Linked DNA regions of Homo sapiens. The protein of the gene in region 2 purifies or fractionates together with the protein of the main gene of each other region. This does not show direct contact. Each region holds a gene or a part of one and is shown on either strand. Other genes may lie near its edges.

What was found. The genes of interacting proteins can lie anywhere in the genome.
Region 1: the proteins of TANK (region 2) and TNIP2 purify together in Homo sapiens (affinity purification with mass spectrometry; 3 studies listed by BioGRID and IntAct, with this or other methods). This does not show direct contact.

The regions. Positions count from the first base shown.
Region 1 is NC_000004.12:2,741,148-2,746,368, reverse strand, and holds the end of TNIP2 (TNFAIP3-interacting protein 2), read left to right. Parts: intron 1-833; coding exon 834-923; intron 924-1,423; coding exon 1,424-1,672; intron 1,673-1,862; coding exon 1,863-1,982; intron 1,983-3,848; coding exon 3,849-4,112; 3' UTR 4,113-4,721; downstream 4,722-5,221. UniProt on the Homo sapiens protein: Inhibits NF-kappa-B activation by blocking the interaction of RIPK1 with its downstream effector NEMO/IKBKG.
Region 2 is NC_000002.12:161,156,336-161,163,459, reverse strand, and holds the start of TANK (TRAF family member-associated NF-kappa-B activator), read right to left. Parts: upstream 3,033-7,124; 5' UTR 2,974-3,032; exon of another isoform or gene 2,910-2,973; coding exon of another isoform or gene 2,638-2,909; intron 2,512-2,637; exon of another isoform or gene 2,173-2,511; coding exon of another isoform or gene 2,048-2,172; exon of another isoform or gene 99-2,047; coding exon of another isoform or gene 7-98; intron 1-6.

The DNA.
Region 1 (5,221 bases), on a different chromosome or scaffold from region 2:
CCTCATCACAGTCTCTAAATAAGTGTCACTTCTCAGCCCTGAACTCAGCTGAGTCACCCGGGGCTTCCCGGTGTAGGCTGTGTTAGGACGTGCACTTCCTTTGTCATTTGAGGGGAATTCTCAAAAATTATGTCACTGAGATACAGTCAGAATTGTAGGGTACACACGAGTTTCAGGAGACTTTTCATTCAGCTCTGTAGTTGTTAGTGGGGGTTGGTTTGGGTTGTGGCTTCGGTGACTCCTGACCCTGCGTGGGGCAGAGGTTAGATTCCTGTGTCCAGAATCACCTGGTTGAACCCGATTGTCTGCAGACAGGACAGTGTCATGGGCTCCAAAGGAGGTAAGCAGGGTGCATGGCCAGGCCCACCCTGGGCAGCTGGGGGCCCCCTCACTGGAGATCCTCTGGTTTACAATGGGATTCAGCTTCCTGCCTTCCCTGCTGTCTGTGATAATGGCAAATCTCTGGCAATGAGAAGACTTTATCATGTCTGGTGTGCCAATCCCTGCAGACATTATGGCTTTAGAATATTTACATTCCAAATATTTAAAAGACAAACAGCTCAAACTGGTAGGTGGGACGGGATAAGGACAGTGTGAAAGGTGGTGTGGCCTGAAGACCTCCCATCCGGGCTCTGGCCTGGGCCAGGTGGGGTGGGCCTGGGCAGGGAGAAGGTGGTCCCTTGTCCCTGCTTTGCTTCTCTACCAAATGAATGATCACTACCCGCTGCACTGGGGGACGCAGTGATAATCTGTGGCCTCAGCCTCTGGGTCTAGCTTTCTCCCCTCTTGCTGTATGTGACAGAGTGTCTTCTCTCTGTCCCTTCCTCATGCAGTCGGAACACACAGATGGGCACACCTCTGTCCAGAGTGTTATTGAGAAGTTGCAGGAAGAAAATCGACTGTTAAAACAGAAGGTGACTCACGTGAGTGTCTTTCACATTTCGTTTGAGAAGAACACATGGCTTACAAACTGTAAGTGAGGGTTCTTTCCTTGGCTGATGCCCAGAGTCGCCCCCCGCCCTCTGGCCACTAGGACTTGATACACACAGTCCCTAGAGACTGGACTTTTTTGCTTAAAACGACGTACGGGACATGTCCTGTCCATCTCCATCCCCCTAAAATTAATCCACAAGTCAGTAAAGGAGATGCAAGAGTTAGCAGCAGGAGGTCCATTTTCTAAGACAGCAAAGCTGCACCGAGTCCACCTCCGTTCATGCTGCTTGCGTACGGGTGTCATCGTGCTGCCTCAGGATTCTCTAGCGGGCCTAGTGTCTGCTCTCTACAGAACAGGGAGGGGCAGCTTCCATTTAAGAGGAAACTCTCACTCAGCGAATCACTGCTAATACATAATTCACACTGGGTGCTGGCTTGAGCAGCTTTGTCAGCTGCCTTCACCGTGAGCTTTCCGGCTCCACCTCTTCAGGTTGAAGACCTCAATGCCAAGTGGCAGCGCTACAACGCCAGCAGGGACGAATACGTGAGGGGGCTCCATGCGCAGCTCAGGGGGCTGCAGATCCCCCACGAGCCCGAGCTGATGAGGAAGGAGATCTCCCGGCTCAACAGACAGTTGGAAGAGAAAATAAATGACTGTGCCGAAGTGAAGCAGGAGCTGGCGGCCTCCAGGACGGCCCGGGATGCTGCGTTGGAGCGGGTGCAGATGCTGGAACAGCAGGTGTCTGTCCCTCGGGCTCCGGACGGCACTGACCAGATGTCTGCTGGCCGGTGGTGGCCGAAATCATGGGACAGGCTGGGCTGAAGGCTTGGTGGCACTGAGTGGGCAGTGGTCACTGTGGGGGTGGGAGAAGCCTGGTGGGGCGCTTCCTCCTTCCTTGAGCAGAAATGTGTGTCTCGCCTCTCTTCAGATTCTCGCTTACAAGGATGACTTCATGTCAGAAAGGGCCGATCGGGAACGGGCTCAAAGTAGGATTCAAGAACTGGAGGAAAAGGTCGCCTCTTTGCTGCACCAGGTGTCCTGGAGACAGGTAGAGTATGAGGGCGTTTTTCTTCCTGCTTAGGTTTAGTGTTTTTGTTTCTCTTCTCATGAGATTAGAGCCTTTCTGTGTCTGCCAAGGCCCTGATTTGCTGGTGATGAGGGTTGTGGCGAGCCCCTCCCTGCTGTGGGGAGAGCCACCTGGCCTGGTACCTGGGCGTGGTCATGGAAAGCCTCCCTGTTATACTGTTTAGTTATGGAGGAGGCTGGCATGGCGGCCTGTCTTAGCAGAGGTGGCTGTCCTCAGGGCCCGTCCGTCACTGTCATGCAGTCAGAGAGCATATCTCGGGCCTCAAAGTGTGAGCTCCCTACGTGTCCTGACCTGTCTGTGAGACGGGAACCCCGCTTACCTTGTCATGTAGATGTGATGGCCCTGGGTGTCCAGTAACATCCCCAGCTCAGCCTGGCACGTGGAGCTGGGCCTTGCAGGGCAGGGGCCCCTCACCCCACCCCTGGGCTCAGTGCTTTTCCTACCATGGGGTGCCTTGAGGGAGGCCTGGCATGAATGGGAACCGATGAAGTTCCTCAGTGTGTGACCCATGGCCTCTTCCTTCTCCTCACTGACTTGTGCTCTGCAAAAATCCAGGAGAAGTTTATGTAGCTCCTCATCAAGTACCTAACACACTTTTGGCCCTGGGAATAGCCTGGGCCCCACTCAAAGAGCTTCCTCTCCTGGCACAGACTGAACAGTAGTGATGCCTCTTGAGAATCGATGCGTCCCGGGCTGGAGCTAGGACGTCAGCCGTGTTTCAGGGTGTGAACAGGGACCCTGGGGCTGTGAGGCCACCCCCCACTGCCCTGTTCCGAGCAGCCACTGGGCCTCAGTGGTTTCTGCTTCTCCTCCGCATGAAGGGCACGGGAGAGTCATGGTGGACTATGGGACTAACCCTGGGACTAAGTCTGCAGCAGAGGGCTGGACAGGTTTTTCTGGCCTTCATGAATTCAAGGAAGCATGTGATTTGGATTGAAGGAGCACTATTGGTACAATCGTGAGGATGGTCTCAGGCCGCCTCTTGAAGATTTTGGACCAGATGAACTGGTTCCAGACTTGCAGGCCCAGATTCTTACCCCCGGGGGTAAAGTTCCTGGTGGGGCCTGCAGACCTTGTACTAAGTGGCCTCTGGTTCCCTTTCAACAGTAGCCTGTGGCCCCTCGAGGGTTGCTCAGTCCCTAGATGGCACAGCCAGGGACAGTGGTGCTGAAGGCATGGGTGATAAGCTGTAGTCCCACTGGGGAAAGTCCACATTCAGACAGGAAGTGGAAGCACCAAGGCCTGCTGGAATGAAGTTCCCAGGCAAGCAGTGAGGGCCACAGGCTGCAGTGCTTCAGGACGGATGTTTGGAGAACATGTGCCAGATCATGCCAGGTGGTTGGTGGGGCCAAGCCAGGGACACCTCTTGCTGCTACTGAAGGACCCCCTGAGCCCCAGAGTGCTCAGCACCCCCAGGCCCCACAGAGGAGGTGCAGAGTAGGGTTGGTACTCAGTTTGCCCAGCTCCCCACCAGAGGCTCTGCCACCTCCACTCTGTGGTGGCCTGTGGGCCACGTCATCAGGGCCACCTTCTCAGTCAGGTCTCCTGGGGCCGATAGGTCCAACTGAACAGGACTTCCACCAAGGGGCTGGGGGGTGGACCACGCCAGGGCCTACTTCTTCATGAGCACATGACGGAGCGTGTGTGTGATCCTCAGTCATTCACTGAGCGCCCCCTTGTCTGGGCTCTGGGGCGCAGCAGGAAGCAAAGTGAGGGGCTGAAGTTCCGCTCAGGGATAGGTGAAGTGCCTCTGGTTGCTGGAACCTGAGACCTGGCTTTGTGACCGTCAGCACAGCCCACGTATATACACCCTTGCCTTTTCTCCAGGATTCTCGAGAGCCAGACGCCGGCCGGATTCACGCTGGGAGCAAAACTGCCAAGTATTTGGCCGCCGACGCATTAGAGCTTATGGTGCCTGGTGGCTGGAGGCCTGGGACTGGGTCCCAGCAGCCAGAACCCCCTGCAGAGGGCGGGCATCCTGGCGCGGCCCAGAGAGGCCAGGGGGACCTTCAGTGCCCTCACTGCCTGCAGTGCTTCAGTGACGAGCAAGGGGAAGAGCTCCTCAGGCATGTGGCTGAGTGCTGCCAGTGACCGAGACTCACCCGTGCCCTTGCGGCCTCCTGGCCCGGTGCAGCTGCCCTCAGGGACAGGGTGGGTGCTCTCAGATGCCATGGGTTGAGCTCTACTGAGAGCCAAGGCCCCTAGAATAGTTGCGGGGCACTCTGATCGTTCACTTTGGTCCCTTTGGCTATGGAACAGGCTGGGTCACAGGGAACTGCCAGTGAGGCTGGAGGCTGGAGGTGGAGATGGGGTCAGGAACATCTGGCAGAGGGAGGTCCCAGTCTGTGTCTCCATCAGGCTTAAGCCAGAGCTATCTGGTGCTGGTGTGCCAGCCCCTCCCCCAGCCTGCCTAGAAAGGGGTGGCTGCCTGAGGGAGTCACTTGTATGGTCCCCAGGGTGGGAGCCCCATCCTGTTCTATGGAATAAAGCGTCGCCTCTCTGCCTCGAACCAGTCAAATGGAGTATTGCGGCTGCACGTCACACTAGGGTGGCCACCCCCGCCATTGCGAGCCACATGTCTGCACTGAGAAACTGCATTTCAGTAGCATTTGTCATCCAGCCGGAAGTTAAAGCACACTTACTTTATTCACCTATTTTTATAATAAACGTTCTTGCTGCTGTGACTGCTCTGAGAATTTGTGTTGGAAGCTGGGGTGCAGGGACTGAACAGTATTTACAGCAGCTGGCATGGGAAAACACTCCTGCTGTTGCCTTCTGCCAGGGCACCAAGACAAGGGGGTCAGTGGGAGCCTGGCTGTATTAGGGTTCTCTAGAGGGACAGAACTAATGGAACAGATAGATATATAAAGGGGAGTGTGTCAAGTATTAACTCACACGATCACAAGTTCCCACAATAGGCCGTCTGCAGGCTGAGGAACAAGGAGAGCCAGTCCCGAGTTCCGAAACTGAAGAACTTGGGAGTCCTATGTTCAAGGGCAGGAAGCATCCAGCACGGAGCAAGATGTAGGCTGGGAGGCCAGGCCAGTCTCTCTTTTCACGTTTTTCTGCCTGCTTTATTCTGGCCACGCTGGCAGCTGATTAGATGGTGCCCACCCCGATTGAGGGTGGATCTGCCTTCCCCAGCCCACTGACTCAAATGTTAATCTCCTTGGCAACACCCTCACAGACACACCCAGATC
Region 2 (7,124 bases):
GCCTACCTACAGCATTTTTCCTTGTCCATGAAAAAAAAGTTGTGTGTAGGGGGGAAATAACCAGCATCAGTACAGCAGCTGTTCTTAGTTCTTGACATTACCGTGTCCCAGACTCTTTCATTCAATTGTATTTACTCCAAGGAGTTTTTGTTTGTTCTGAACCATTTTGCTGAGTATTGTTGCTGTCTTAAGAACAATGAACTCCCAGACCCACATGGTTTCATGAGTGAATTCTTTCAGATCTTCAAAGAGCAGAGTTCTTAGGCTATTTAAACTACATCAGAGCGGAGGAAGAGGAACTCTGCCCAGTTCTTTTTAGGAACCAGCATAACCTTGATACCAAAACCTAGCAAAAATAACAGAAAAAGGTGAGTATAAAATGAATCTCAATCATTGATTTTAAATAAAAATGCTACCAAAGGAACCAATATATACTTAAATATTACACCATGACCAAGCGTAAGATTGGTTCACAAACTGCAAATATACTAAAGTAATTCACTATCCTGTTAGGTCAAAGATGAAAAGTACCTATGAAAGGTTATGATAGATGTCAAAAAGCCATTTGACAAAATCCAACTTCCATTCCTGATAAAAATGTTAAGAAGTAATGAATATACACACCAAATGAACATCCAATATCTATTATTTAAAATTGTTCTCAAAGTGCTATCTAATACAATAGACACTCCCCATCCCCAGTTGCAAAAATGACTTTGGATGCAATCCAAACAGTTCTCTGCAAAAATCACAATGAGCTAGAAATATTAAAGGAAACTTCCCTGATAAATATAATTTATTAGATATTAATAGTAACTTCATATTTAATGATGACATAATAAAAACATCCCCAAACTAAGAAACAAGATAAAGGATGGCCAGAATCACTGTTTTATTTACCACTATTCTGGGGAAGCCAGCAATTCACTAAAGCAAAGAAAGAAAGAGATAAGATGAATTATAATTAGATGATTGTTTTCCTAGAAAATTCAAGTGAAACAATTTATTAAAATTAATAAATTTAGAAAGTTGGCCAGATACATAAACACTCATCTACATACCAGTCACAAAATATAAGAAAATATAATGGTTAAATCCCAAAAAGAGTATTTTAATGAAGCATGAACAGTTTATGTTAAATTTTATCTCAAAGATAATGCAATTATATTCAAGAAAATTTTGAAAAGGAAAAATGAAGAGGGACTTGTCCTATGAATTACTAGAAAACGTAATATCAAAGCAGATTGGTATTTTTAAAGGAAGAGACAAAAAGATCAAAGCAACAGATGAGTCTAAAGAAAAGATGCATGTACACTTGAGAATTTACTATATTAAGGAGGTATTTCTAGTCAGTTGGGAGAGAAATGATTTCAACAAATGATTTCAGGAAAAAATGGCTGCCTAGTCATAAAAACAAAGAAAAAAATTAAATCCTTATCTTAGCATACAAAAATCATTTTCAGATGTTTTAATGAGTAAATCATAAAAAGAGAATTAACAGGCAATATAGGAGAAGATTTTAAGAATTTTTGAGTGGGGACTACCTTCTTACCTGAGATAAAAAGCCTGGGCATTTTAAACCAAAGCATTGATAATTCTTGAAAATATTTGCCATATATTTCACAAAGGATTAATGAAATCTGTAGTCTAATGAGAAACAGATAATTTTGAAGAATACTGGGCAATATATACGGACAGGACATAGTAAGTGACAGTTAACTATAATTTGGTACATCTACACAATGCAGTACCACGCCAACATTACAATAAAATAGAGCTACATATGGCAAGACTTTCACCATATATATATATTTAATCTGAAACAGATTATCGAACAGTATGCATAATCTCATTTTCATAAGAAAGCAAAATAACATGGTTATGCACATACAGGAAAGATGTGGAAGGCTTGGATTACAACTGGGGAGAGGACTGAGAAGGATTTCACTTCCTGCTTTGCACATAGTTGTATTATTTGAGGATCCCTCCTCTCTCAAATGAGGACACAATAATTTTTAACAGAATGCACTGCTTGCTTCTCTGCTACCTCTCGTTTGGGTGTGTATTCCAACCGCGGTAAGAAGGCAGGTCATTTTCTTTTCCTTCAATTTCACGTCGCTTCTTCACTTCCTTTACTACCATCTCTCCCTTATTATAACTTGTCAAAAGCATCTCCTGTGAGGTGAGATAAACACCACTTTACATAGCAAGGCTGCTTTACTTTTGCTCGTTATAGCATAACAATAAAGGCACAGCTCTTCTTTGATTATCCTCCCCCTTTCTACTTCTAGAAAAGCACAGCTTTTTTGCCTGTAACTCGTTGCTAGTCAGTTTACACCGGCGTGAGGACTCTACCTAACGCCTGGGTTCCCACTGTGGGCGGGGTTGGCTTCTGTTCTTCCTGCCTTGGCCACCCACTCCCTCCGTGACCCTCTGGGAAGTTACCCAACTTCTCATTGACCAGGCTATGATGACACCCCACAGGAAGGCAGAGGGGAATTGTGCAACCACCTTGGGAAAACAACAGAAAGAACCAATTAAGTTTTCGAAAGAGTAACCACGATACTACTTGATTCTAGGAGGCAGTCTCTCTCCCGAAGGGAAGTCGGGAATGTTCCTGGAGGGTCCACTGCTCACCTCGACACCGCAGGCCCTTCCACCCCCATTTCCCGGGCAAAGCAGCCGGGACGAGTCCCTCCCTTGAAGCCGTTGGGGCAGAGGCCGACGATGCTATGCTGACATCGCGGGCCCGGAAACCAACCCACAAGGAGTCCGCTCCGGGGGAAGGACTCGCGTGGTTTCTCCCGCACAAAATCCCTCCCCAAACTGCAAATTGGTTGTCTCCGCTGCTCCTCGGCTTCTCTCCCTGCGGCGCCCCTACTGTCAGCGCGTCCCTCTCGCTCACGCATACAAATTCTCCGACGTCGTGCTTGACGGATTCGGACACACCAATTCACAAAGTTTCTTACTCACACAGTTCACGCTTTCAGCTGCGTTCCCTCTCCCCTCAGGTCGCCGGCGCCTGGCCGAGTGACTCCAACCGGAAGTTGCATTTTGTTCCAGTTCAGAGGGCAGTGCCTGCGCGCGGAGCCATTAACTCTTCACCTCCACCCAACAAGGCCAGGGCCCTTCCGCCCTGCCCCACCCAGCCCAGGGCTCTTCTGCCCCGCCCCTGCCCGCCCCGCCTAGCGCCCTCCCCCAGCCCTGCCCAGCCAAGTCCCCGCCTCTTAGAAAAAAAAAGCGTCAGCAGCGGAAGAGAATCCTATGTCAAGTGTAAAGGTCACTTGTGAGTCTTTGCTGGATTTTTTTGCCAAACGATAAATAACCGGTAAATAAATAACCAGTAAATAAATAACATCACCCTATATATGAGTTAGAGTACACAAGAATCACCTGAGAAACAAAATGTAGTTTCACCAACCGACTCCTACAGCTTTCATTTCAGAGCAACTGGAGTGAAGCCCAGGAACCTGCATTTTCAACAGATCCTCGTAAATTTATGTAATTAAACGTGGTTAAAGTCCACACTCTGAGAAACACTACATATACACATACCCATTTGGTTTCTCCCCAACTGGTAGTATTTTTCACTAAATGTATTTGTTAAAGAGGAATGGCTGGAAATGGAGGTGGAACTTTATTAGAAAATTTCCCATGAATTAAGACTTTCCCATTATTCCAATTCCTAGCCATGCATGAATATTATCTAAGATTCATATCTTAGATACCGCAAGAAAGATATCTTTTCCCTTTAGGGCAAGAGGATGAGGTCTGGCTGCCCCAATTTCTCCCTGTATTTCTGAATCATGGATGTTTACACATCTTTCCTTAGGCCAGTAAGTCCAAGGATTTAAAAACCTGCCAAGTTGCAGTGCATTCTGTCTAGTTATCTTGAATGTTGCTGTATACTTTTAAAAGTCAAAGCCTAAATATATTTGAAACAATGTTTTTAACAAACAGAAACTTCTTATATATAACGTTTTGACCAGTTGAATAGTTTTCTTGTAATAAGTAATTGAGTTAAACATCACAATACAGTACTGCTTTAAAAAAATTATTTAAACTTTTTTTGAGGGCAGTTTTAGATTCACAGCAAAATGGAAAGGAATGTCCAGAGATTTTCCATATACTTTCTGCCCCGACACAAGCATAGCCCTTCCCCATTATCAACATCCCTCACCCCAGTGTGATGAAAAAAAGCTGTTATAAATATCTGTGTGCAGGTTTTTTTGTGCGGACATAAGTTTTCATCTCCTTTGGATAAATACCAAGTAGTATGATTGCTGGATCATAAGGTAAGAGAATGTTTAGTTTTGTAAGCAATTGCCAAATTGTCTTCCAAAGTGGCTACCATTTTGCATTCCCACCAGGAATGAATAAGAGTTCCTGTTGCTCCAAATCCTTGCCAGCATTTGGTGTTGTAAGTGTTCTGGATTTTGGCCATTCTAATAGATGTGTGTCATATTTTATTGTTGTTTTAATTTGCATTTCCCTGATGACATATGACGTGGAGGATCTTTTCATATGGCTATTTATTTACCATCTGGTTAACTTCTTTGGGGAGGTAAAGGCCTTTGGCCCATTTTTTAATCAGGTTGTTTTCCAAATGTTGAGTTTTAAGTGTTCTTTGTATTTTTGATAAGTCCTTTATCAGATATGTCTTTTGCAAAAAATTTTCTCCTTGTCTGTGGCTTGTCTTTTTACTCTCTTGACAATATCTATTGCAAAGCAGAAATTCTTAATTTTGATGAAGTCCAGTTTATTCAGCACTGCTTGAGCAAATTAAATAAGCTGATTTGAAGATTTCTGATTGAAATAGTGGAATTTAGTAATATACTCAGAGTCTAAAGCTGAATGCATAGGCATTTTGAAATATGGAGGTGCTAAAAACTTTGAATAAGGAAATAGCTAGATATACACATTTCTTAAATGCGTATTTTTCTCTTTCCACTTCCATGATGTTGTAGTCTTGAAGAGAAGTGGCTGCATAATTCCCCTGTATGTGAAATATGCATAAATGCTGGTAGAATTATTTTGTAATCAATGCTAAAATGGCATCAAACATTTTCCTTTTCCTATAATGATGATTTTTTAAGAATTCACATACAGTATGTTTTACAAAGGTTAGAAATTGAGTTGACATTTATTTGAGGAATAATCTTTTAAAATAATGACATAATTTTATTCCAATTTTCCTTCACTCATATTATTATATACCTCAAGTTAGTGAGCAGTGATGTGGCTTTGGAGGTTGGGTATGGTGGCATGAAAATGGGGAACTGACCAGGTGTGGTGCTCACACATATAATCCTAACACTTTGGGAGGCCAAGGGCAGAGGATCACTTGAGCACAGGAGTTTCAGACCAGCCTGGGCAACATAGTGAGACCACGTCTCTATTTAATAATATTAATTAATGAATTATTATTAAAAGAAAATGAGGGAATTGCAGGCCTTTAAAAGATATTTTGGAACCTGGACGGGTGCAGTGGCTCACGCCTGTAATCCCAGCACTTCGGGAGGCCAAGGCGGGCTGATCACTTGAGGTCAGGAGTTTGAGACCAGCCTGGCCAACATGGTGAAAACCCGTTTCTGCTGAAAATACAAAAATTAGCCAGGTTTGGTGGTGCACACCTGTAATCCCAGCTATATGGGAGGCTGAGGCAGGAGGATCACTTGAACCCGGAAGGCAGAAATTTCAGTGAGCCAAGATCACGCCACTGCACTCCAGCCTGGGCAACAGAGAGAGACTCTGTCTCAAAAATATTTTGAATCCTAGTTTTAAAACTGCTTAATAATTTATTGAGACTTCTGAATATAAACCTAAGGACAAGGAAACCTGGCAATATAAACAGTTACTATGACTTGGAATGTCAGTTATGTTCTCAGTCAAATCTTTGATGTGCAATATCACTATTAATGGAATCTGGTTGACTTCTGATTTACGATGACATCTGGACTGGCTGATTATATTGCAGACTCTCCAACTAAAATGGCTATGAAAAATCAGAAAAACATGAGAACTCACAATGGCCTTGGAAGGCAGACTGACAACCAGGGCCACTGTGTATGGTTGAGCAGGCTGTGCTCAGTTGCAAAGCCTTGCCTCCTTCAGCCTGTGTCTTCTCAGAGAGGTGCTTTTTCTAACTCACAGAAAAGTACCATAAGAGCAGCTATAACCCTGTTGACAAGCACCCTAGTTCCAGAATTTGATAGGATACTGGACTTATTGCAAGAACTGTGAAGCTGAAATGGACATGTACTTTTTTGTTGGAAGGCAATCAAAGGTGTTGGTATGGAAGGATAGTAAGGAAGCTACCTGCCTCACGGCCCCTACTAGTAATTCCACTACTATGTGTGATGGCTAAGAAGTATTTTACACCTCTTTGCCCTAATCTCTCCCATTAGTTTCTCCACTCTATGACCCATTTTGGAGCTACGGCCTAGAGAATACCAGCAATAACCCAAAGGGAGTGGATAGGTGTAATGCTCTGTGTCCAAGCTTAGGAAACTAATAATGAAAGGGGTTGGGCAGACAGAACTGGGTGTTTGTTTCTCTGGGGGTTTACTTTTTCATATATGGTTCTTATCAAGAAAAAGACAAATCATTGTTTCTGATTAACCAGGAATTCTTCTCTTTATAGTAAAATAACTAGCTATTAAAGGTAAGGAATCTCACCTCAGCCCAACACCCGCAGTGACAAAGTTGATAAATGTCAGCTTCAAACCAAAAAGTTAGCTGTTGACTGTGCATGTCTATATGTCTTCCAGTTCAACATCTATGCTGAAGAACTTAATAGCATCAGACAGATAATGAGAAGAGCCAAGAACCAAAATCCACACATTCAGGTAGTAAGGTTGACACAAGGCTTGGAACGAGTAATTCAAGAGAAAGCATCCCTTTGAAAAGATTATGCTGTCTGAAAGAGAGTCTTCAAAATACAAAGAAAGTGAATACTTTGGAAAATTATTTACCAGAAGCAGAAGTATATGGAGAGAATCTGCTTTGTATTTTCTATGCAAAAAGAGATGAAATACATGATAAGCTATTAGACTAAGATAAGGAGGGAACTAGAGACAAGGTGAAATAAAACCAAAGTTGGATAAGTTAAGTCTGTAAGGACA